Homo sapiens: one gene and its partners. The protein of the gene in region 3 interacts with the protein of the main gene of each other region in a pairwise test. Each region holds a gene or a part of one and is shown on either strand. Other genes may lie near its edges.

Region 1 (3,500 bases), on a different chromosome or scaffold from region 3:
TCTAAGTGCTGGAATGCCTCAGAGCTTTACTATGGGTCCTCTCTTTGCTATGTATATTCCCTTCTTAGATGAACCAGTCCAGACTATCAATATGTTAGTGATGTTCAATTTTATATTAGGATCCTGGACTCTTCCTGGAACAACAGATTCATGTATTGTTGTAGTAGTAGCAGCAGTAATTATGACCGTTTCTACTTGCTGGCTATTATAAACAATGCTGCTATCACTAATCACATACAACTGTGTGAACATATGTTTTCATTTCTCTTGGTTTACCTGTTAGTGGATTGCTTGGTTGTATGGTAAATTTATCTTTCATTTTTAAGAAACTGCCAAACCGTTTTCCAAAGTGGCAGCATCATTTTATATTCCCACCAACAATGTATACGGATTTTGGTTCTGCCACATCACTGTCAACACTTGTTATTTTCTGTCTTTAATTATAGCTATTTTGTGGGTATGAAGTGGTAACTCATTGCAGTTTTAATTTGCATTTCCAAATGACTAATAATATTAAGCATCATTTTATGTGCTTTTTAGCTATTTGTATATCTCCCTTGGTGAAATTCAAATCTTTTACTCATTTAAAAATAGGGCTATATGTCCTATTATTGACTTGTCAGGGTTTTTTATATATTCTAGAATCAAGCCCTTTAGCAGATACATGTTATGCAAATATTTTCTCCCAGTCTGTGGCTCTGCTTTTTTTTTTCCTTCTTGGAAATGAGGTCTTGCTATGTTGCCCAGGTTGGAGTGCAGTAGCTATTCATAGGCACGATCACAGTGCACTATTACACATCCTCAAACTCCTGGGCTCAAGTGATCCTCCTGCCTCAGCCTCCTAAGTACCTGGGACTAAAGTCGTGGACACTAAATGCCTGGCTTTCTCTTTTCTCAATAGTACCTTTCGAAGTGGAAAAGTTTCCAATGTTTGCAAAGTCTGATTATAAATTTTTTAATGAATCCTATTTATTTTTGATGTCATATTTAAAGATTCTGCCTAACCCTAGGTCATGAAGATTTTCTCCTACATTTACATTTGGATGTCTGATCCATTCTACCTCTGAAATACTATCTTAATTCTGTAACTCTTCTGTCTTCAGAATTTCCACCTTAATTAGAATATTCCTGAAAGTGTCTTTTCTAGCCTCTTTGCTTCCACTTTTGTCTTTCTCCAATCAACTTTCCACACAGCAGTAAGAATTTCACCTAAACTTCTATCAGATCATGTCACTTCCCTGCAAAAGATACTTTAATGGCTTTCCATTGCACTTGGAATAAAAATCTAACCTTTTTATGATGGCCAATAGCCTCTCTCTTAACTCTCCAATATCATCTAATTCCTTTCCTTGCTCACTGTATTCCAGCCACACAGGCCTTCTCACTGTTTCTTGAGAATATAAAACTTTTTCCTCTTCTAGGCTCAGAGCCTTTATGCTTGCTGTTTTGTTTGGCTGAATACTCTTTCTTCAGCATTTGAATGACTGGCTCTTTTTCAAGCTTCAAATGTCAGCTCAAATGTTTGCCCCTAAAAAAAGGCCTTTGTTTCCCTCCCTTAATTAGTCTATTACCTTGCTTATTTCCTTATAAGACTGTCACAATTTGTGTATCTTGCTTATTTATTTGTTTTCACTCTGCCTTCTCAACTAGAATGTGAACTAGCTACAGAAAGTTTGTCTTGTTTACTACTCTGTTCCCAGGGCTCACTCCAGTATATACATAGCACATGGTAGGGGTTTAAGACATATTTGTTAAATATATGAAAGAAATTGTTACTCCTATCACACGATTTCTCTTTTTTGTTAGGAATTCTCAATTCTGCTCTAGAAGGAGTTACTCATATATAAATGCTATGATAAGACAGAAAATAATTTAAACAACTTCTAGCTAGTCATCTAATTTGCACAATTTTTCAAGGAATATTTTATTCACAGTATATTAACTAATTCTGTAATTCAAAGAGTCTAGGTTAAAACTATATACTCACTTAAGAAAGATGGTCTTTCATCTGGATTTTGTGCCCATCCACTTTCTATTAGAGAGATCATACGTGCTCGGTGAGGTATATCATATGGCAAACTTTCTTCATTAATAACAGGTCGATGTCCTTGTGACACACTATACATTATCTGCAAAGGATTGGTGACATCTGTCAAAACAAATAGATTGCATTCATTAGTAATATATTATGATTAAGCATATTACTTACATCTAAAACTAACTAAAAGAAAATAAGTGAATATTGAAATTTTAGGAATGATGCCTTACCCCCCTTTCTGTAAAAGGAATATATATACCCCAAACCATTGCCAGACTTGTCTGATTCCTATGGAATGAGTTTATATCCTCACCTCATTAATTTTGGGCTTGACCATGTGATTGGATTTGGTCAACAGAGTATTTGTAAAGCAGAGCTGAGCGAAACCTTGCAGAACTAAGAAGGGCTACAGCAACCAATATTTAATGTGAATGAGAAATAAATGTTTATTTCATAAGCTACGGAGATTCCGAGGTTGTTTTTTGTTACACAACAAGCTGACCTACACAAACCTCAAAATAAAGAAATAAACAATATTTTCAGGGAATAAAAAGGACAGATTAGTCTTCGATATTTGCTAGTCTTTATAGAGGGGGTAGTAATTAAATTATCATATAAATAATTTTACAGCTAGACTAGAACTTGGAAATAGTAATTTAAAATTCTTATTATGCAGGCGACAAAAATGAGGACGCAAGAGATTTGTGACTTGATCACAGAGCTAATTACTGTCAGAACAAGAATTAAAATCTGGGTTTTTCTGATCCTTAATCCAGTACATTTTCCAGTATATAGTAGACTCACAACTGGATCCTTAACCCGGTATATTTTGCAGTATGTGATGCATTCACAACTGATAAATGGTTGTTTTAGTGTGTTTTCCACAAAATGAATAAGCAGATTTAAAATAACATGATTTTTAGATAGTTCTGAGAGTGACCTACTAACATGATGTTATTGAGCATAAAAAAGTCAAACCATACTTACCTTCAAAAGGCTGTTTTCTGGATAACACTTCCCATGTGATAACTGCATAGCTGTTTAACATAAGAACATACATGTTACATATTTTAAATGAACTCTGCATAATAAACTAAAATAGCACTATTTTTAAAAGCTGACTGAAGATACCATTTTTCAAAGTGATAAGGCAGCAAAGAATTACTGTATACAATGAAGATGATAAATGCTCATGTAGTTTGGAAACAAAATCAACTTTAAGTTAAAAAATTAGGAAATTACTGTAATACAAGCTTAACGTTACATGCAAGATTAACTTTTTGTGGATGATTTAATTCTTGGACACCCAGATAAGCTATGCCCTTTAATTAAATGATATTATTTTTCACAAAGAACAAAGAACAAGAAAAAAATTGTCTCATGGAGCTCTATTCTACTGCCTTTTTTCTGCTCTCAGCACTATCTTCTTTGGTAGTAGAAATATCTTGCCTACAGTTTAACT
Region 2 (3,500 bases), on a different chromosome or scaffold from region 3:
TTACGCCCCCCACCACCCCCTGCCTGGTTGAAGGGTCCGGCCTGCCGGGCAGCCCGAGAGGATGGAGAGATCTTAGAAGAGCTCTTCTTTGGGACTGAGGGACCCCCCCGCCCTGCCCCACCACCCCTCCCCCATCGCGAGGGCTTCTTGGGGCCTCCGGCCTCCCGCTTTTCTGTGGGCACTCAGGATTCTCACACCCCTCCCACTCCCCCAACCCCAACCACCAGCAGTAGCAACAGCAACAGTGGCAGCCACAGCAGCAGCCCTGCTGGGCCTGTGTCCTTTCCCCCACCACCCTATCTGGCCAGAAGTATAGACCCCCTTCCCCGGCCTCCCAGCCCAGCACAGAACCCCCAGGACCCACCTCTTGTACCCCTGACTCTTGCCCTGCCTCCAGCCCCTCCTTCCTCCTGCCACCAAAATACCTCAGGAAGCTTCAGGCGCCCGGAGAGCCCCCGGCCCAGGGTCTCCTTCCCAAAGACCCCCGAGGTGGGGCCGGGGCCACCCCCAGGCCCCCTGAGTAAAGCCCCCCAGCCTGTGCCGCCCGGGGTTGGGGAGCTGCCTGCCCGAGGCCCTCGACTCTTTGATTTTCCCCCCACTCCGCTGGAGGACCAGTTTGAGGAGCCAGCCGAATTCAAGATCCTACCTGATGGGCTGGCCAACATCATGAAGATGCTGGACGAATCCATTCGCAAGGAAGAGGAACAGCAACAACACGAAGCAGGCGTGGCCCCCCAACCCCCGCTGAAGGAGCCCTTTGCATCTCTGCAGTCTCCTTTCCCCACCGACACAGCCCCCACCACTACTGCTCCTGCTGTCGCCGTCACCACCACCACCACCACCACCACCACCACCACGGCCACCCAGGAAGAGGAGAAGAAGCCACCACCAGCCCTACCACCACCACCGCCTCTAGCCAAGTTCCCTCCACCCTCTCAGCCACAGCCACCACCACCCCCACCCCCCAGCCCGGCCAGCCTGCTCAAATCCTTGGCCTCCGTGCTGGAGGGACAAAAGTACTGTTATCGGGGGACTGGAGCAGCTGTTTCCACCCGGCCTGGGCCCTTGCCCACCACTCAGTATTCCCCTGGCCCCCCATCAGGTGCTACCGCCCTGCCGCCCACCTCAGCGGCCCCTAGCGCCCAGGGCTCCCCACAGCCCTCTGCTTCCTCGTCATCTCAGTTCTCTACCTCAGGCGGGCCCTGGGCCCGGGAGCGCAGGGCGGGCGAAGAGCCAGTCCCGGGCCCCATGACCCCCACCCAACCGCCCCCACCCCTATCTCTGCCCCCTGCTCGCTCTGAGTCTGAGGTGCTAGAAGAGATCAGCCGGGCTTGCGAGACCCTTGTGGAGCGGGTGGGCCGGAGTGCCACTGACCCAGCCGACCCAGTGGACACAGCAGAGCCAGCGGACAGTGGGACTGAGCGACTGCTGCCCCCCGCACAGGCCAAGGAGGAGGCTGGCGGGGTGGCGGCAGTGTCAGGCAGCTGTAAGCGGCGACAGAAGGAGCATCAGAAGGAGCATCGGCGGCACAGGCGGGCCTGTAAGGACAGTGTGGGTCGTCGGCCCCGTGAGGGCAGGGCAAAGGCCAAGGCCAAGGTCCCCAAAGAAAAGAGCCGCCGGGTGCTGGGGAACCTGGACCTGCAGAGCGAGGAGATCCAGGGTCGTGAGAAGTCCCGGCCCGATCTTGGCGGGGCCTCCAAGGCCAAGCCACCCACAGCTCCAGCCCCTCCATCAGCTCCTGCACCTTCTGCCCAGCCCACACCCCCGTCAGCCTCTGTCCCTGGAAAGAAGGCTCGGGAGGAAGCCCCAGGGCCACCGGGTGTCAGCCGGGCCGACATGCTGAAGCTGCGCTCACTTAGTGAGGGGCCCCCCAAGGAGCTGAAGATCCGGCTCATCAAGGTAGAGAGTGGTGACAAGGAGACCTTTATCGCCTCTGAGGTGGAAGAGCGGCGGCTGCGCATGGCAGACCTCACCATCAGCCACTGTGCTGCTGACGTCGTGCGCGCCAGCAGGTGAGTCGGCTGCCTGCTTGCTTGTCCCGGAGACAGGCTCCCTTCCCCCATCACCCTGATGTTTCTGTCTTCATTCCACTGTCCTCCCGCAGGAATGCCAAGGTGAAAGGGAAGTTTCGAGAGTCCTACCTTTCCCCTGCCCAGTCTGTGAAACCGAAGATCAACACTGAGGAGAAGCTGCCCCGGGAAAAACTCAACCCCCCTACACCCAGCATCTATGTATGTGTGCCACTTGGCCTCAGAACCACCCCTGCCAGAGGGTTCTAAGACAGTGTTGGGGACTGCTGGGGTGCTCTGAGCCTGGGCCAGGGCTCTGACCCCAGCTCTCCTGGTCATGTCTCAGCTGGAGAGCAAACGGGATGCCTTCTCACCTGTCCTGCTGCAGTTCTGTACAGACCCTCGAAATCCCATCACAGTGATCCGGGGCCTGGCGGGCTCCCTGCGGCTCAGTGAGTATGGGGGGCAGAAAGTGTTAGGGAGGGCTACAAGGGTCTGGGGCATGTAGGACCCTCTGAGAAATCCCACACTTGAAGACTCATGACAGTGGCCGTGAGGAGTCCACTGAGTGATGGGTCTGCTGGCCTTGGGCTCTTCTCCCATCTGTCTGTCTCCAGCATTTGGCAAGGGAGAAGGGGCCATAGTCAGGGCCTGATTAGTCATTTCTGAATTTTTTGGTGATTAAGGAAGAGAATAATACAGATTTTAGAAAACCCCTGAAAATCTGTGATGTTGGGGCTCTCTCTCAGTCTTTTATTGCGCAGAATTTCAAACACATACAAAATTAGAGAAAGCTGTATAGAAATACAAAGGTCAATCTTGTCTCCTTTATACCTGTATGTTCTCCCTTCCCCACACTGAGTTATTTGAAGCACATTTCAGGCTTTCACTTGACTGAATCTTTAATCTTTAATTGGATCCAATGGTAACTCAAAGAAGCTGCTGTTTTGACTAGACTCCAAATGGGGAAAAAAGAAGCTGCCATTCATTGAGCACCTACTATGTGTCTGTCAGGTGCGGTGCACATGGCCACGCACACATCTGGGAACACTGGTCTAGGGGCTGAGTCCTTGAGCAGCTGCAGGAGAAAGAGGGCTGGTGAGGATGCAGATAGAGGCCAGCACTCCCAGCTTCCTGTGGGGCTAGGGCTCCTGCCTATTTCTTCTGGGCTGAGCTCTGCTAAACCTATGACCACCCTGTCAGAGCCAGAGGAGTAGGAAGGGAAAGGGTCGATTGGGTCCTCGGTCCCTATCCTCTGCCTCTGCCCCGACACCCTGCTCGGCCCTCCCTTCCAGACTTGGGCCTCTTCTCCACCAAGACCCTGGTGGAAGCGAGTGGCGAACACACCGTGGAAGTTCGCACCCAGGTGCAGCAGCCCTCAGATGAGAACTGGGATCTGACAGGCACTCGGCAGATCTGGCCTTGTGAGAGCTCCCGTTCCCACACCACCATTGCCAAGTACGCACAGTACCAGGCCTCATCCTTCCAGGA
Region 3 (3,500 bases):
CGCCCACTTGCCTCTGCTCCCACCCTGTGGTCTCTGCACGTGCCAGCTCCCCTTTGCTTTCCACCGTGAGGGGAAATAGCCTGAAGCCCTCACTGGATGCCCAATCCTGAACTTTCCCAACCAGCAGAACCATGAGCCAAATAAACCTCATTTCTTTATAAATTACCCAGCCTCAGATATTCCTTTTTGGCAACACAAAAATGGACTAAGAGAACTAGAGTAGCTGATAGAATTTTTTAAAAGAAGGGTAAAGTTGGAGGAACTATACTACTTGATTTTGAAGCTACAGTAATCAGGACAATGTGGTGAAGGGACAGACACGTAAGTCAATGGAATGGAGACGAGAGATTTCTACAAATATGGTCAATGGGTTTTTTTTAACAAAGGTACAAAAATCAATTTAATGGAGAAAAGACAGTCTTTTCAGCAAATGTTACTGGAATAGTTGTCATCCATATCTAAAAAACAACACCTCAACCTCACATCTCATACACAGCTGAACTTAAAATTGATCATAGATCTAAGTGTGTGAAATGTAAAACTATAAACCTCCTTGAAAAAATCATAGAAAATCTTCATCACCTGGACTTGGGCAAAGACTTTTTACTCTAAAAGCGTGATCCATAGCAGAAAATGTTGATAAATTGAATTTCATCAAAACTAAAAATGACTGCTCTGCAAAAGGATGATGCTAAGAGAATAAAAAAGACAAGCTAAGATTAGGAGAAAATATTGCAAAGAACATATCCAGTGTGTGTTCTGAATATACAGAGAAATCTCAAAACTCAACAGGAAGAAAACAAGCCAATTGAAAATGGGCAAAATACTTGAACAGACACTTTACCAAAGTGGATATACAGATATCAAATACACACATGAAAAGATGTTCAGCATAGCCATCAGGGAAATGCACATTAAAGCCACAGTGAGATATCACTTACACCCATTGAAAAATGACTACAATAAAAAAAAAATCTGATAGTAATACCAACTGTCATCGAGGATGAGGAACAGCTGAAAGTCATGCATTGCTGGAGGGAACATGCCACTGTGGAAACAGGTGGGTGCTTTCTTATAGACTTGTATGTGCACTCACCTTATGCCCAGGAGTCCCTCTCCTGTGTGTTCAACCCAGAGATATGCAAGCTGTGTTCACACAAAAACCTGTATGTGAATGATTATACTAGCTCTCTTTATAATTGCAAAAAAAAAAAAAACAAAACCTGGAAACAACCCAAGTGTCCTTCATCTGGATAATCCTTAAGGATAAACTGGTGCGTCCACACAGTGGAATACCACTGAGCAGTGAAGAGGAGCCAGTTATTGAAACAGGTAATTTGGAGGAACCCCAGAAACGGTACAGTGAGTGAAAGAAACTTGTCTTGAAAGGTTATGTACTGTTTGGTTCCATTTGTATGATATTCTCAAAAAGACACAAGACCATGGGGATGGAGACCAGATCGGTGGCTGGAGAGGCTGGGGTCGGGGAGGGCATGACCACCAGAGAAAAGGGTGAAGAGTGTTTTGGGTGGCAGAGCTGTGTGTATGCTGGCTGTGGTTGTGAGGACAAAATCCACACAAGCGCTCAAGTTCGTAGGCTGTACGCCAGAAAAGCTGTTTCACTACATAACTGAAAAAATAAGATTGAAAAATAAGATGTATATATTTTTTGTGTGCGTGTGTAGAAAAATACTTGAAGGTAAACTGCAGAGTGATAACAGTGGTTCCTTCTAGGTACTGGGTTAATATGTGATTTTTATGTTTGTTTGAGCTTTTCTAAGTTTTCTACATTTTCCGTACAAAACATGTATTACTTCTGTAATAAAAGCAGCTTGAGATTATTTAAGGAAGCAAAACACTTCTGTTGTTTCTCATCAACTACAGGATGAAGTGCAGGCTCCCTGGGTGGTTTGCAGGGGCCACAGGCCTTGGCCCCACCTCGCTGGTGCTCCCTCTACTCCTTTCTGTGTTTGAAGCAAGTTCTGGTTCAGACAGAAAGCCTGGCCTTTGAGGGCGTTGGGTCCCCACTTCCTCAGTCATAGATGTGATGTGCTTCCCTTGACTTGGGACCTTCTGAGGGATGCAAGGTGGACCAAAGGACCCGTGAATGGCCAGGGCATGCCTGCGTGGCTTTCGGTTTCTTAAGCAGTGATTTCAGTCCACTTAAAGGGTGTGAAAATTCTGAGAATGCTACGGACCAAATATATTTTATGTAACAGTTGGGACCCGGCAACACTTCAGGGCTCTTTCAAAATCTGGTAGCTACGAGCTCTTCCGTGACTGAGATGGGACAAGAGTGAAGATTTGTCCTTGCTTTTAGCTCTGCTCCAGTTCATAGTTCTAATGGGAAATTATGTGACTTAAACCCAGGCTGTGAGATGCATCAGTGACGTGTGGGCATAAAATAAACCCTCGAGATGTTCTCTTGCATGGTACACTGGCCTAGGCAGGAATATTCTTGAGGCTAAAACTGTAGAACTGTCAGACTAGTGTTACGAATGTGGTGGTGAGAGGCCTGTGCAGCCGCGGGGCCTGTGATGTGTCTCCTGTGTGTCTTTCACTCCTATGCAGTTTGAGTTCATGATCGAGTCCATCCTGTATGCCCGGGATGCCTGGCTGAAGGAGGACGGGGTCATTTGGCCCACCATGGCTGCGTTGCACCTTGTGCCCTGCAGTGCTGATAAGGATTATCGTAGCAAGGTGCTCTTCTGGGACAACGCGTACGAGTTCAACCTCAGCGCTCTGAAGTAAGTGTCCACAGCTGGGACTGGCACCGTCTTGTGGGGCCTCCTGGTCCACAGTCTGCAGGTGGGCCAAGGCCCTGGGAGATCCCATACGACGGTTGGATAAATGAGGGTACCTGTGCACCCAGATAGGACAATCTGTTGTAGCATTGGAGTAATTAAAGCAGTATGGTGCTATAACAAGACAGATGGGCAGAGCAGGGTAGAATGCAAGGAACAAAAATTTTCGTATGTGAAAAAGGTGGCATTACGATTAGGAGGGAGTGAGGGCCAAGTCAGCAAATTATTCTGGAGCAGTTGATTAGCCCTTGTTCTCTCACGCCATACGTGAAAACTTAATTCTGCATGGAATCAGCGTCAGCGACAGACATCCATGGGGGCCTGTGTGCACCATCTTAGGTGGAGAAATGAGCAGCAACAATGGATGGAATGGACCCTGGGCTAGATAGAATCTGGCAGTCTATGTGGCAGAAATCAGCAAAAACACGATTGTAAAAGCAAACAAGTAATTAGAGAAATCACGTGCTGTCAGGTCTTGGAATCAATTAGAAAGAGATGACTAGCCAGATGGAATTGCAGCCCAATCATGTGAACAGGCAAACCGCAAAAAATAAATAAAATTACCAATAAATATATGAAAAATTATAATGTTGTTAGTAGTTAAAATGCGAATTAAAATACATGCTGTTTTCCCTACCAGACAAGCAAAGAGTAAATTAAAATAGTAGCCCAGGCTTGCCTGGCAGTGGCAGGGAG
Region 4 (3,500 bases), on a different chromosome or scaffold from region 3:
AACTGCCCTGGCCTCCCAAAGTTCTGGGACTATAGGTGTGAGCCACAGTGCCGAGCCCACTTCAAGCATCTTGATTACTGAAGATTTCCAGACTGACCTGGGGGGTCGCAGGTTCACCCCTCTTCACACAACCCTATGGGCTATTGAGGTGGACAGGGATATTTCCTACCACTTCCCAGGTTGTAAGTCTGTCATCTCCTTTGGTCCTCATATTTTCTGTCCCTGTGTGTCTGTTACTACCTCCAAATGCATCTGTGAGGAAAAGGAGGGGCAGAGAAGGCCTGGGCCTTGCCTGAGACCATGCAGATGGCATGGCAGAACACCTCGCCCGCCACACTCCACACACCACACACCTACATCAATATGGTTCACACCAGACTTAGGTGTCAAGCTCACTCTCTCCCTCCCATCTCCTCCCCCACAGTGCTCATACCACAAGGAGATCATTGAAGAGGAAGACCTCCCGCTGATGCAACCCTAGCCTCTGGGGGCGGTTTGGATCTGGCACCTCGTAGAGCTGGCAGCAGCAAACCAGTCGACGGTGAGGGAGAGACAGGACCTAGACAGGCATGAAGAAACAGGTGTCAGCAAGGCCAGCCCATCAGCTTCAGGCCTCCTGGCACCTTAACTTTCAACCGCAAGAAGTTTACCACTCATACATGTGTGTCACTCTGACACAAGGGGTATCAGCAACTAAGACCTAAACTTATCTGCTACCTTGCCTTTGCCCTTCTGTCTGGAATGTCTTTCTTGCCCAGCTCTGCATGGTCATATTTCAACTCCCTTTCAAATTTCCATCCCGGCCGGGCGCAGTGGCTCACGCCTGTAATCCCAGCACTTTGGGAGGCCGAGGCGAGCGGATCACTTGAGGTCAGGAGTTCGAGATCAGCCTGGCCAACATGGTGAAACCCCGTCTCTACTAAAAACACAAAAATTAGCTGGGTGTGGTGGTGGGCGCCTGCAATCCCAGGTACTCAGGAGGCTGAGGCAGGAGAATCGTTTGAACCCAGGAGGTAGAGGTTGCAATGAGCCGAGATCATGCCACTCCACTCCAGCCTGAGTGACAGAGTGAAACTCCATGTCAAAAAAAAAAAAAAAAAAAAAAAAAAATTCAATCCCAAAATGATCTCTTCCAAGAAGCCTTCCCTGATTTCTCCAGGCTGAAAATGGTCTCTCTCTCCTTTCTCCTCTCCTAAACTGGACCATAAAGCAGAAGTATTATATGTGTCTTTGTTTCACACCCCGACTGGTCTGTGAGTGCCCCCAAGGATAGAGAACACGTCTGATTCATATCTATGAATGCCCAGCACCAACTCTGGTGCCCAGCAAATGCTGGGCTCAGTGGAAAGGCATCCACAAATGTTTGTTGGCTAAAGCGTTTTCTTTTTTTTTTTCTTTTTTTGAGACGGAGTCTTGCTCTGTGGCCCCAGGCTGGAGTGCGTTGGCACGATCTCAGCTCACTGCAACCTCCGCCTCCCGGGTTCAAGCAATTCTCCTGCCTCAGCCTCCTGAGTAGCTGGAACTCCAGGCATGCACCATCACGCCCGCAGCTAATTTTTGTATTTTTAGTAGAGACAGGGTTTTGCCATGATAGCCAGGCTGGTCTGGAACTCCTGACCTGAGGTGATCCACCCACCTCGGCCTCCCAAAGTGCTGGGATTACAGGCACAAGCCATTGTACCTGGCCTAAAGTGTGTTCTTACTTTGGTTTTCTGCTAACCATTAGCTTGGCTCTTCACTTAGGATGGACAGGCAAAGCCGGAGGTGAAAAGGATGCTAATATTTATATAGTACCCACTATGGGCCTTGGAATGTGCTCGATGCATTCACTCTGCACCACAGCCTTCTGAGGAATGCATTATCACCCACTCTGTATTGCAGGTAAAGGGCACCTGGGGCTCAGGGAGGTGCAGTGACTTACCACTTAGTGGCAGAGGCAGACCTGAACCCTGGCCCCTCTGCAGCCTCCCAAGGCACTTACTGGTTTCTTTCCAACAATCATGCGCTCCACAGCCTGCACCTGGGACACATGGTCATCGTTGGTCCGCAGTTCACGCCCCTGGATGCGCTGGTAGATGCCCACCAGGAGGTCTCGGGGGATGTCTTCACCATTGTCAACCCCTGGGGGAGGGAGTAACACAGGGATATGTCACATAATTATGGGCACTGGGTGGTAGGGGTGCTCCACCACCCCCACACCCAGGCACGGGCCACGATAGTCAGGACTGAGGGTCAATGGGTACCCTCGGCCCCTTAGCCAGGATTGGGGCAGGGAGGGTGTCCTTCAGTACAACAGCCAGTTGCTATCTTCCCCAGAGTGGGGAATTTTTTCTCAACAACTCAGAATACACTGTAATTAAAACAATCAGATACTATTGTTTGCCTTCCTAATTAGCAAAAATAATTTAAAATGAAATCCAGTGCTAGGAAGAGTGCAGGGAAGTGGGCATGTATGGTAACATAACTCTTTTGGAAGGTAATTTGGCAAGAACCTAAATGTTTGTACCCAGTGATTCTCTTCTAGGAATCTACCCTAAGGAACTACTCAGAAATATGTGCAAGAGGTATGTGCAAGAATGCTAGTGCAGGCGGGGCATGGTGGCTCACGCCTGTACTCCCAGCACTTTGGGAGGCCGAGGCAGGTGGATCACGAGGTCAGGAGATCAAGACCATCCTGGCCAACATGGTGAAACCTCATCTGTACTAAAAATACAAAAAATTAGCCAGGCATGGCACCATGTGCCTGTAGTCCCAGGTACTCGGGAGGCTGAGGCAGAATTGCTTGAACCCGGGAGGCAGAGGCTGTAGTGAGCCAAGATCGCGCCACTGCACTCCAGCCTGAGCAACAAGATTGAGACTCTGTCTCAAAAAAAAAAAAAAGAAAAAGAAAAAAAAGAATGCTAGGGCAGGCGTGGTATAATCCCAGCACTTTGGGAGGCTGAGGCAGGTGGATCGCTCGAGCCCAGGAATTCGAGAGCCAACCTGGGCAACATGGCAAAATCCCATCTCTACAAAAAATACAAAAATTAGCTGGGTGTGGTGGCACACACCTGTGGCCCCAGCTACTTGGGAGGCTGAAGTGGGATAATAGCTTGAGCCTGGGAGGAGGAGGTTGCAGTGAACCATGATTGCACCACTGCACTCCAGCCTAGGCAACAGAGCAAGACCCTGTCTCAAAAAAAAAAAAAAAAAACTCACTAAGTGTTACTTATGGGGACAATTTGAAACAACCTAAATTTTAACAATAGAGGATAGTATATCCATTTAATAAGATAATGCACAGCTATTAAAAACTTGACATTTACAAAAACATTTCAATAGCATGAGAAAATTACAGTAGCAAATTATGGGAAAAGAGTAAGATAAATTGCATGTGTGGTATGATCTGAACTATATAAAAAGTTACATATGCATGGGGGAAAAGATTAGAACGCACCAAAACATTAACTATGATTGCCTCTAGGGGGCACATTTTGGGTGATAAAAAGAAATTTTCTAAT
Region 5 (3,500 bases), on a different chromosome or scaffold from region 3:
GGAGTTCAAGGCCAGCCTGGGCAACAAAGTGAGACACCCCCCCCCCCGCCCCCCGCCCACAAAAAGTTTAAAAAACTAGCCAGGTGGCCGGGCGCAGTGGCTCACGCCTGTAATCCCAGCACTTTGGGAGGCCTAGGCGGGCAGATCACGAGGTCAGAAGATCAAGACCATCCTGGCTAACATGGTGAAACCCCATCTCTACTAAAAATACAAAAAATTAGCCGGGCGTGGTGGTGGGCGCCTGTAGTCCCAACTTCTCAGGAAGCTGAGGCAGGAGAATGGTGTGAACCCGGGAGGCGGAGCTTGCAGTGAGCCGAGATCGCGCCACTGCACTCCAGCCTGGGCGACAGAGTGAGACTCCGACTCAAAAAAAAAAAAAACCTAGCCAGGCATGGTGTTGCATGCCTGTAGTGCCGGCTACTTGCGGGTGGCTGAGGTGGGAGGATTGTTTAAGCCCAGGAGTTCTCGTGCCACTGCACTCTAGCCTGGGCAACAGAGTGAGACCTAAAAAAAAAAAAAATGAGTAGGCCAGGTGCAGTGGCTGATGCCTGTAATCTCAGCACTTTGGGAGGCCAAGGCAGGCGGATCACTTGAAGTCAGGAGTTCAAGACCAGCCTGGCCAACATGGTGAAATTCTGTCTCTACTACAAATACAAAAAATTAGCTGGGTGTGGTGGTGCACGCTTTTAATCTCAGCTACTTGGGAGGCTGAGGTGGGAGGATCACTTGAACCCAGGAGGCAGAGGTTGCAGTGAGCCAAGATTGCCCCACTGCTCTCTAGCCTGGGCGACAGAGTGGGACTCCATCTCAGTTAAAAAAAAAGAAAAAGAGTAGAAATTAACCAGAAGTTAGAATTCAAAGAATTAAGTTCAATAAGGCTCACTGAAAGCTCAGGGTGAGGATGGTAGGTATGAACTAGATCAGGGAAGGCCTGTAAGGACTTCATTCTAAGGGCAGTTGGAAGCCATTGAAGGATTTTACATAGGTGAATGTGACAGATTGGCATTTTTGAAAGCTCACTCTGCTTGCAGTGTGGAGAGCAGAATTAAAAGGAGCAAGAGTGATTTAGAGAGAATAGTTATTGAAGTAATCCAGGCAAGAGATAATAGTGGTTTAGACTTTGATGGTATTAGTTGAGATGGAGAGAAGTGGGAAGAGTGGAGAAATATTTAGCTGCTAGAATTCACTTTGAGGTTGAGTAGTTATGGAGAGGGAGGCATCAAGAATGATTCTTAGGTTTCTGGGCTGGGCCGTAGGGTGGATGGTGGTCAAATTTACTAAAACAGAAAAACCTAAAGGAGGAGGAGGAAGAACATTTCTGGGGGTGAGGAGAAAATCATGAGTTAGGTTTCAGACATACTGAGTTTGGGGTTCTTGAGACATAGATTCCAAATGGAGATGTCCACTTGGAAGTTAGATATAGCTCTGGAGTCTAGATGTAAGATCTGGGAGACATAGATTTATAAGTCATCAGCATAAAAATGGTATTTGAAGACACAGAAATAGATGAAGCCTCTCAAGGAATGTGTGTAGAGTAAGAACTGAGGTTAAAGGACATTAAGCCTAGCTCCACAAATAGCAGTATCTAAGGGAACCAATGAAAGAATGGCCAAATAGGTATTCATATTAGGTTGGTGCAAAAGTAATTGCAGTTTTTGCTATTACTTTTAATGGCAAAACCACAGTTACTTTGGCACCAGTGTGATAGGTGGAAAATCAAGATAGTGGATAGTGCGTTGCCATGAACGTCAAGGAACAGACTCTAGGAGGAGGGAGTCGTCAGCTGTGTGAAGTACTGCTGAGACGTCAAGCAAGATAAAGACTGCGAGTTATCTTTTGCACCTACTGACATGTAGATTATTGTTGACCTTGGCAGGAGCAGTTTCATAGTGACTGAAGCCATATTGCATTGATTTGAGGAGTGATGGAAGGTGAGGAAATGGGGATGGTGAGTACAGACAACTCTTTCAAGAAGTTTGACTGAAGGAGAGAGAGAATGAGGGAAGGAGCTGGAGGAATAGATGAAGTAAATGAGCATTTAAAATAAAAATAGGTGGGGACTAAGCTTATCTGGTGACCCTGATTCTTACAGTAGAATGTGAATCTCAAAAATATTTAAGCCTATTTTAAATAAATTTCTAAAATGGAAACCCAATTCATTATTTTACCAGGTGTCCTCCCTGCCCCCTGCTTTAGAATATAAGACATAGAACATTGTCTTATAGGCATTTATGATAACCTGGATAGGGAAGGTAATCTTCTAAAATTAATCTTTAAAACATTACACACAAACACTCACCTCCTTTATAGTTCTCCACTTGGAAAATCATTTAGTATCTAGTTCATTACTAGCAGCAGTGGTCAGTAAGTGCTTCCTGAGTAAATTAAAATCAACATCTTTCTTTTTTTTTTTTTTTTCTCAGAGAGATGGGATCTTGCCATGTTGCCCAGGCTGGTCTGAATTCCTGGGCTCAAGCGATATTCGTGCCTCGGCAGCATCTTTCTTAATAACAGTATTTGTGACAAATAGTTCTATATTCTTAATTTTTTTTTTTTTTTTGAGATGGAGTCTCGCTCTCACCCAGGCTGAAGTGCAGTGGCGCGAGGATCTGGGCTCACTGCAACCTCCGCCTCCCAGGTTCAAGCGATTCTCCTGCCTCAGCCTCCCGAGTAGCTGGGATTACAGGCATGTGCCACCACACCCAGCTAAGTTTTGTATTTTTAGTAGAGACAGGGTTTCACCATGTTGGTCAGGCTGGTCTCGAACTCCTCACCTTGTGATCCGCCCGCCTTGGCCTCCCAAAGTGCTGGGATTACAGATGTGAGCCACCGCACCCAGCCAATAGTTCTACATTCTTTATGTTTGAAATCCCTTCATTCAATCTCGTTTTAAATGTGACCTATATTATGATTTCCCTCTACCTATAAAACAACATCCCATATGAAATGGAGTTATCTGATATGATGGGACATTCAGAAGAGCTGGCATCATTAGCAAGTTCAGGCATTTTTTTTCTTTCTAAAATAGGGATGATCACACTTCTCTTAGGGTCAGTAAGGACATTTGTGAGTGATATCATTATTATTTATTTGCAGAGCTTCAAAAATGTGCTGAAGCCTACCATAGGATTGAATTAGATCTGGTTACTACTTATAGGGTTCATATTAAATAGAAATTGACCTACAAGGCGGCCGGGCACGGTGGCTCACGCCTGTAATCCCAGCACTTTGGGAGGCTGAGGTGGGCGGATCACAAGGTCAGGAGATCGAGACCATCCTGGCTAACATGGTGAAACCCCGTCTCTACTAAAAAATATAAAAAATTAGCCGGGCGTGGTGGCGGGCGCCTGTAGTCCCAACTACTCAGGAGGCTGAGGCAGGAGAATGGCGTGAACTCGGGAGGCGGAGCTTGCAGTGAGCCGAGATCGCGCCACTGCGCTCCAGCCTGGGCGACAGAGCGAGACTCCATCTCAAGAAAAAAAAAAGAGAAATTGACCTAC
Region 6 (3,500 bases), on a different chromosome or scaffold from region 3:
CCTCTCTGTTCTCCCTCTGGAATGAATAAAGTACTTCTGAAAAACCATCAACCCAGTCGATACGGAAATGCTGGTCCCTACAATAGAATGCTCTGTGGTCATTAAAAAGATTAAAAAGGTCAATCTGTGTTTCCTGATCTGGAAAGATCTCCTGGACATACTGCTAGTGGGGAAAGAAAGCAGTAGAACAGCTTAACACAATCTCGTCTTTCTTAGAAAAAAATATAATCCCTACTGGATATGTAAGCTCCAACAAAAAAAAAAGAAAGAAAAAATACAACCTGCACACCCCAAAAAAGCCCTGGCCATGTGTCTCTGTAAATAAACTGAAGATGCAGGAAGAAAGATGGGGAGGTGTAGGGAAAGGACAGACCAAAGTGTCAGTGGCAACTACAACTTGAAGGGGAAATTTAACATTTTACTTTATGTACTCCTATATTGTTTCCATTTTTATAATAACCATGTATTATTTGTGTGGTTTTTTTTGTTTTGTTTTGTTTCGTTTTTTGTATTTTTTTTTTTTTTTTTGAAACAGAGTCTTGCTCTGTTGCCCAGGCTGGAGTGCAGTGGTTTGATCTTGGCTCACTGCAACCTCCATCTCCTGGGTTCAGGCAATTCTCCTGCCTCAGCCTCCTGAGTAGCTGGGATCACAGGTGCGTACCACCACACCCGGCTAATTTTTGTATTTTTAGTAGAGACGGGGTTTCATCACGTTGGCCAGGCTGGTCTCAAACTCTTGACCTAGGTGCTCCACCCACCTTCACCTTCCAAAGTGCTGAGATTACAGGCATGAGCCACCGCGCCTGGCAGCATGTATTACTTTTGAATAATAATTTTTAAAAGCCATAAAGAGCAATTTGGTAATATCAAACTTACAATGCATTACTTCTTTTCCCTTCTTTATTGTGGAGAAATATACATAACAGAAAATTGACCATCTTAAGCTTCTTTTAAGTGTATAGTTCAGTGGCATAAGTACATTTGCACCATCATGCAACCATCACCATCATCTGTCTCTAGAATTTTTTCATCATCCCAAACTGAAACTCAGTATTACACATGCATTTTAACCTAGCATTTCCACTCCTAAGAATATACACTACAGATACACTTCCAAAAGCTTGCCAAGGGACCCACACAGCATTGTGTGTACAAACTAATAGCTGAAATGTAATTTAACGGTTCATACATAGGCTGGGCGTGATGGCTCATGCCTGTAATCCCAGCACTTTGGGAGGCTGGGGCGGGGGGATCACTTGAGGTCAGGAGTTCGAGACCAGCCTGGCCAACATGGTGAAACCACATATCTACTAAAAATACAAAAATTAGCTGGGCGTGATGGTGCACACCTGTAATCCCAGCTACTTGGAAGGCTAAGGCAGGAGAATTGCTTGAACTCAGGCGGCAGAGGTTGCAGTGAACCAAGATCGTGCCATTCAGTCTCAAAAAAAAAAAAAAAAAAAAAAAAGGTTCATACATAGAGAACTGGCTAAATACAAGATGAAAAATTCATTGAGGAAGACTACTCAGATGTGAAAAAGAAGGTGCTGTTGGTAACAACTTCTGGGGGGGGCCCGGGGGAGGGGGACCCACAGAATTTAGCCTCCAGGGGAACTGTAAGCACACATTCCTTGGGGAACATCGCCAAGGTATATGATAAGGAAAAAAAGGCACATAAGTTATAGTATGTGCTCATTTTTGCAAACGTAAGCAAGCGTTTTATATATGTGTAAAATAAAACTAGAAGAATGCAGACTAGACCGCTAACAGTTACCTTTGGGGAAGAGAATTAGGAGTATTTTGCAAACTGCAAACCACAAGTTACACCCTGTTGGTGGTTATTTTAAGAATTAAAAATAGGCTGGGTGTGGTGGCTTGCATCTGTAATCCCAGCACTTTGAGAGGCCAAGGTGGGTGGGTAACCTGAGGCCAGGAGTTTGAGACCATCTTGGCCAACATGGTGAAACCCCGTCTCTACTGAAAATACAGAAATTAGCCAGGCATGTGGTGGGCGCCTGTAATCCCAGCTACTCGGGAGGCTGAGGCACGAGAATGGCTTGAACCTGGGAGGCGGAGGTTGTAGTGAGATCATACCATTGCACTCCAGCCTGGGTGACAGAGTGAGACCCTGTCTCAAAATAAAAATAAAAAATAAAAAAACTAAAATTGAAAAGGACAAAATAGAAAACACTGTTTTGTAAAACTTTTGTTGCAATACATCCTATGTGTGCTTCCTGGGTTGCAATATGAAATGTATTTTTTACCATAGGTCGTAGGAAAGAAAAAAAAGGAAAAACATTGGATTGTCCATCTGAAGTGAGAGGGAGTTTATTTTTTTATATATGCTTTTGTCCCGTCAAGGATTTTCCCTCAAGTTTTCTCAATCTTTAGATCCTTTTCAATTAAAAAGCAATTAAAAAATTTAACTAATAAAAAAATCTAAAGATTAATAGAAAAGAAAATGTCAGTGTGTTTCAACTGGGGAACCAAGGAGATGGCGTTTTGTTCAGGTTTGAGTGGGAACTTACAGTGAGAGCAGTGTCCCCACCACAGGGGGCAGAGTCAAGAGTCCCTCACACAGGCTGGGTGCAGTGCCTCACGCCTGTCATCCCAGCACTTTGGGAGGCCGAGGCAGGAGGATCACCTGAGGTCAGGAGTTCGAAACCAGCCTGGCCAACATGGCAAAACCCTGTTTCTACTAAAAATACAAAAAACTAGCTGGACATGGTGGTGGGAGCCTGTAATCCCAGCTACTCAGGAGGCTGAGGCAGGAGAATCACTTGAACCCGGGAGGCAGAGGTTGCAGTGAGCCAAGATCTGCCACCGCACTCCAGCCTGGGCAACAAGAGCGAGACTTTGTCTCAAAGAAAAAAAAAAAAAGAATAAAAAGTCCCTTCCACACAACCTCCAGGGGCTCTTCTCTGCTTTAGCGGTGGTGGGAATCCCTTGTTCATGAATTAAGGCAGGTGGATCAGGGGCCAGGAAGGAGAGAGGAAGGAGGAGCAAGGGGAGAGGCAGGAGGGCTGGAGGGAGACAGACAGCGACAGAGAGGAGGGGGAGGGGGCTGGAGGGAGAGGGGAGAGGACAGGGGAGGGAGGCTGGAGGGGGCTAGAAGGAGATGGGGAGAGGGAGGGGAAGGGAGGCTAGAGGGAGATGGGAAGGAGGAGGGAGAAGGGGGCTGCAGGGAGATGGGGAAGAAGAGGGAGATGGGGAGGGTGAGGGAGATGGGGGGGAGAGAGATGGAGAGAGGGAGGGAGATGGGGGAGGGGGAAGGAGATGGGGAGAGGGAGGGAGGTGAGGAGGCGGAGGGAGGGGGGAGGGAGAGGAGTAGGGAGAGGGAGAGGGGAAAGGAAATGGGGAAGAGGAGGGAGAAGGGTGCTGGAGGGAGATGGGGAGGAGGAAGGAGATGGGGAGGAGGAGGGAGATGGGGAGGAGGAGGGAGACGGGGGCTGAGAGAGATGAGGGGAGGGACTGAGTGAGATGGGGAGGGAGATGGAGAA
Region 7 (3,500 bases), on a different chromosome or scaffold from region 3:
GTTATACCTCTTTTTCCCTGCAAGACTCAGTATTCCATTGGTGAAAACATGCAGAGTGATTTTGTATGAAAGAAGTATGATGGGCCTGGCGCGTTGGCTCACACCTGTAATCCCAGCACTTTAGGAGGCCGAGGCAGGCAGATCACCTGAGGTCAGGAGTTCGAGCCCAGCCTGGCCCAAATGGTGAAACCCCCGTCTCTACTAAAAATACAAAAATTAGTCGGGTGTGGTGGTATGCACCTATAGTCTCAGCTACTCAGGAGGCTGAGGCAGGAGAATCACTTGAACCCGGGAGGTTGCAGTGAGCCGAGATCAGGCCACTCCACTCCAGCCTGGGTAACAGAGTGAGACTCCATCTCAAAAAAAAAAAAAATTAAATAAATAAGTGAGTATCCCTTAAAAAAAAAAAAAGAAGAAGTATGATGATAAACTTGAACTGGAGAAATTTCATTAATTTTGCTCACAAATGATATCATTTGTATTGCAGGGTTGAAGAACATACAAGTTTAATTACATTATTTAATGGTGTGAAAGTCATAAAAAATAATTGTACTTCTGGCAATTAAGACTCCTAATACTGGGCAAGGCAGTTTTTTAAAAAGAAGAACTTACAAGTTATGGATATACTTCTAAGACCATAGAAATCAGTTAATGTATGTAGAAGAGATTGCCTAAAACTATTTCCACAGACTCCCATATTCCCTTCCCAATCCCATTTGGTTACATACAATGAGCTCGCATAAAACTTCTTCCCTGGCTTTCTCTGCCTTGGCTTCAGTCAGCTTGGTCCCAAAGAGTTTCCTCTTTATTATGCTGTCATGTAGTTGTCTTTGCAGTGCCATGTATTTTACCAGGAGCTTTAAAACACTAATTTTCATTTGGTTTCATTTTTATTTAAATTTCAGTGGAAATAATGTTAATCTGGCAACTTTTAAAAACTCTGGGATTTATCTGTGATTATATATTTCAGATTATTATCTCTTAGAACTTTGTCTGATTTAGTGATAAGAGACAGTTCTAAATGAAGATGTAGGCCACCTAGTTTAGAAACAGATGCTTTAATGAGCTATAATTGGAATTCTTGGGATATTCATCAAATTTCATAACTTATTTTTCTAGCATTGCTCCAAGTTCAGGTAATGCATCATCAGATCCAGAAACAGAGACTCAAAAGTGATTCTCAATGAATACCTTTTGCACAATCTGAAATAATTTATCAATGAGATTGCAAATAACCAAACAAAATAATGCTATGATTTCCAAAGCCTTCAGAAGGGCTACTTTTCTTAGACCTAACGTAAAACCAATTACTTTAGGTGGATGTTGTTTTGCAGCCAGTTGCAATTCAAGTAGGAAAAGGATGTGCTAAGGCTCTTTCTTCCCTAAATGGTGTCAGAATTTCACTTTCATCAATCAATCTTCTAGCCCACAGTTTTTTTCATTACTCTCTGAAATTCGGGAAGACATTAATTCATACCCTTGGTGCTCATAGTACTTTCCTTAATCCCCCAGCTGACTAAAACTTTTGTTTCATCTGACACATAGGAGATCAAGTCATCTGAAAGTTATGTCTTAATGGTTATCTGACTTAATAACACATCAAGTAGCTTGTTCTTGAGAGTTCTAAAGCTATGGCACCTCATGTAGTATAATATGTACTATCATCTGTTAGGAAGCTCACTTATTTCTAGCCATGAGTTTTGTGAGGAACCAGAGGCTACTTCATAGATCTTTCAGCTTTTACTGAAAGATTTTTTTAATGCTTTAATTATAGATTTTTTTGCTTTCTTTTAAGCTTATCTAAGCTTTTGTTTTTTAGAAACCGTTGTGTTGATTTTGTGGTAAAAGTGCAACTCAAATCATTATTATCTATCTATGATGTCATAGACAAACAATGTCTATCTTAGTTGACATAGAAGTTCTCTATTTAAATTATTGCCTGAACAATCTTAATTCCATTAGTTTATCTAACATTTTTAAAGTATTGTCTCTGAAGACAACATGCAGAGATATTGTTCAGAAGGAGATGCATGAATATACATTTTAACTAAGAGTTTTCATCAAGTGAGATTCCCTGGGTTCCTCATCTACTTGCTTATGTGGCTGTCTACAAGTCACTTAATTTACCTTAGTCTAACTGCCTTCTGTAAAGTGGGTTGCTATAGTCTTTAAGCCAATATGTATATTACCGTTTTTGTAATAAACAGTATAAATATGAGAAAATTAAACAGATGCAATTTTAGTTTGTGGATGACCAGCTGTATTCCCAAGATTGAAAAGTGATTACAACTTTAAAAAAAAAAAAAAAAACACCTGTGTTTGAGTGCCCCTGGGAAACATAAAACCCTTTTTTTTCCTGAAACTCAGGAGTATTTCATTAATGGCCAGAGATTTTAAGTAACTAGTTTCTCAGCTCCTAACATGTACTATCTTAATAGAAATGTGTTAATTACAAAGAAAGTGTTTATCTTCCTTATATAAAAGAGGTGTTTGTGTGTGTGTGCATGTGTCTGTATGTATATATGTGTTTGTTGTTCCTTAGGCTATTATTCTTAATAGTTCCCACCATATATATATATTTGGGTTTTTTTTTTTTTTTTTAGACGGAGTCTCCCTCTGGCGCCCAGGCTGGAGTGCAGTGGCGCGACCTCGGCTCACTGCAAGCTCCGCCTCTTGGATTCACGCCATTCTCCTGTCTCAGCCTCCCGAGTAGCTGGGCTACAGGCGCCCGCCACCATGCCCGGCTAATTTTTTGTATTTTTTAGTAGAGACGGGGTTTCACCATGTTAGCCAGGATGGTCTCAATCTCCTGACCTCGTGATCCGCCCGCCTCGGCCTCCCAAAGTGCTGGGATATATTTTTTTACCCAGAGCTTTTTTCTTATAAAATTGCTAAAAGTTAGGGGCTTTGGTCCCAAAAGACTGCTTAATTTCACCTTATCAGTAGGGTAATTGGAATAGTTATTGTGTAAGTTATTACTGTCTGATAGTAAGAATGAAGTTTTTCATTTATAATTTAGTGTTATACTGCAAAATAGGGCAACCCTTTCATAAAACCAGGAAATAATGAGAAGTAGTTTTGCTTTTACTGACTTAACCCGGGGGTCTTTGTTAAATAATAGGATTCAAAATGCCTAAGTCACCTGTTCCCGTTAATCTATAATAAAGAAATATTTTATTGCAAAAAATTATTCTCCTAATTATGTAATAAATTCAGGCGTACATGTTTTTGAAAGTTTTACTGTATTAGAGTTGCTTCACTTTGTATTGTTTTTGTTGTTTCCTATGTTGTTATATTTTAAATGACTTTATAAATGTAGTTAAAGCTATTGCCAAAAAAGTGTAAATTTCCGTTTTATGCAATTCTTCTAACGTTTTATTCTGACATTAACATTGTTTGCCAACCTGTTATTCTTTAGCCTGTTCATCCTCTGCAGTCCTCTTCACAGCCTGTTCAGTACTCTACAGCCCCTTACCCATCCCCGTTCCTGCCAGTCTCAC

The links.
Region 1: the proteins of PRMT2 (region 3) and RIPK2 interact in a two-hybrid assay, tested with the Homo sapiens proteins (one large-scale study listed by BioGRID and IntAct).
Region 2: the proteins of PRMT2 (region 3) and KDM6B interact in a two-hybrid assay, tested with the Homo sapiens proteins (one large-scale study listed by BioGRID and IntAct).
Region 4: the proteins of PRMT2 (region 3) and IQSEC2 interact in a two-hybrid assay, tested with the Homo sapiens proteins (one large-scale study listed by BioGRID and IntAct).
Region 5: the proteins of PRMT2 (region 3) and YLPM1 interact in a two-hybrid assay, tested with the Homo sapiens proteins (one large-scale study listed by BioGRID and IntAct).
Region 6: the proteins of PRMT2 (region 3) and ZNF341 interact in a two-hybrid assay, tested with the Homo sapiens proteins (one large-scale study listed by BioGRID and IntAct).
Region 7: the proteins of PRMT2 (region 3) and R3HDM1 interact in a two-hybrid assay, tested with the Homo sapiens proteins (one large-scale study listed by BioGRID and IntAct).

Annotation. Positions count from the first base shown.
Region 1 is NC_000008.11:89,771,316-89,774,815, reverse strand, and holds part of RIPK2 (receptor-interacting serine/threonine-protein kinase 2), read right to left. Parts: intron 3,076-3,500; coding exon 3,026-3,075; intron 2,150-3,025; coding exon 1,988-2,149; intron 1-1,987.
Region 2 is NC_000017.11:7,847,717-7,851,216, forward strand, and holds part of KDM6B (lysine-specific demethylase 6B), read left to right. Parts: coding exon 1-2,012; intron 2,013-2,104; coding exon 2,105-2,231; intron 2,232-2,355; coding exon 2,356-2,461; intron 2,462-2,741; exon of another isoform or gene 2,742-3,304; coding exon 3,305-3,500. UniProt on the Homo sapiens protein: Histone demethylase that specifically demethylates 'Lys-27' of histone H3, thereby playing a central role in histone code. Demethylates trimethylated and dimethylated H3 'Lys-27'.
Region 3 is NC_000021.9:46,656,174-46,659,673, forward strand, and holds part of PRMT2 (protein arginine N-methyltransferase 2), read left to right. Parts: intron 1-2,571; coding exon 2,572-2,747; coding exon of another isoform or gene 2,748-2,751; exon of another isoform or gene 2,752-3,500. UniProt on the Homo sapiens protein: Arginine methyltransferase that methylates the guanidino nitrogens of arginyl residues in proteins such as STAT3, FBL, histone H4. Acts as a coactivator (with NCOA2) of the androgen receptor (AR)-mediated transactivation.
Region 4 is NC_000023.11:53,241,351-53,244,850, forward strand, and holds part of IQSEC2 (IQ motif and SEC7 domain-containing protein 2), read right to left. Parts: intron 2,122-3,500; coding exon 1,982-2,121; intron 560-1,981; coding exon 434-559; intron 1-433. UniProt on the Homo sapiens protein: Is a guanine nucleotide exchange factor for the ARF GTP-binding proteins.
Region 5 is NC_000014.9:74,769,816-74,773,315, forward strand, and holds part of YLPM1 (YLP motif-containing protein 1), read left to right. Parts: intron 1-1,876; exon of another isoform or gene 1,877-1,931; intron 1,932-3,500. UniProt on the Homo sapiens protein: Plays a role in the reduction of telomerase activity during differentiation of embryonic stem cells by binding to the core promoter of TERT and controlling its down-regulation.
Region 6 is NC_000020.11:33,783,996-33,787,495, reverse strand, and holds part of ZNF341 (zinc finger protein 341), read right to left. Parts: intron 124-3,500; exon of another isoform or gene 1-123. UniProt on the Homo sapiens protein: Transcriptional activator of STAT3 involved in the regulation of immune homeostasis. Also able to activate STAT1 transcription.
Region 7 is NC_000002.12:135,646,484-135,649,983, forward strand, and holds part of R3HDM1 (R3H domain-containing protein 1), read left to right. Parts: intron 1-3,418; coding exon 3,419-3,500.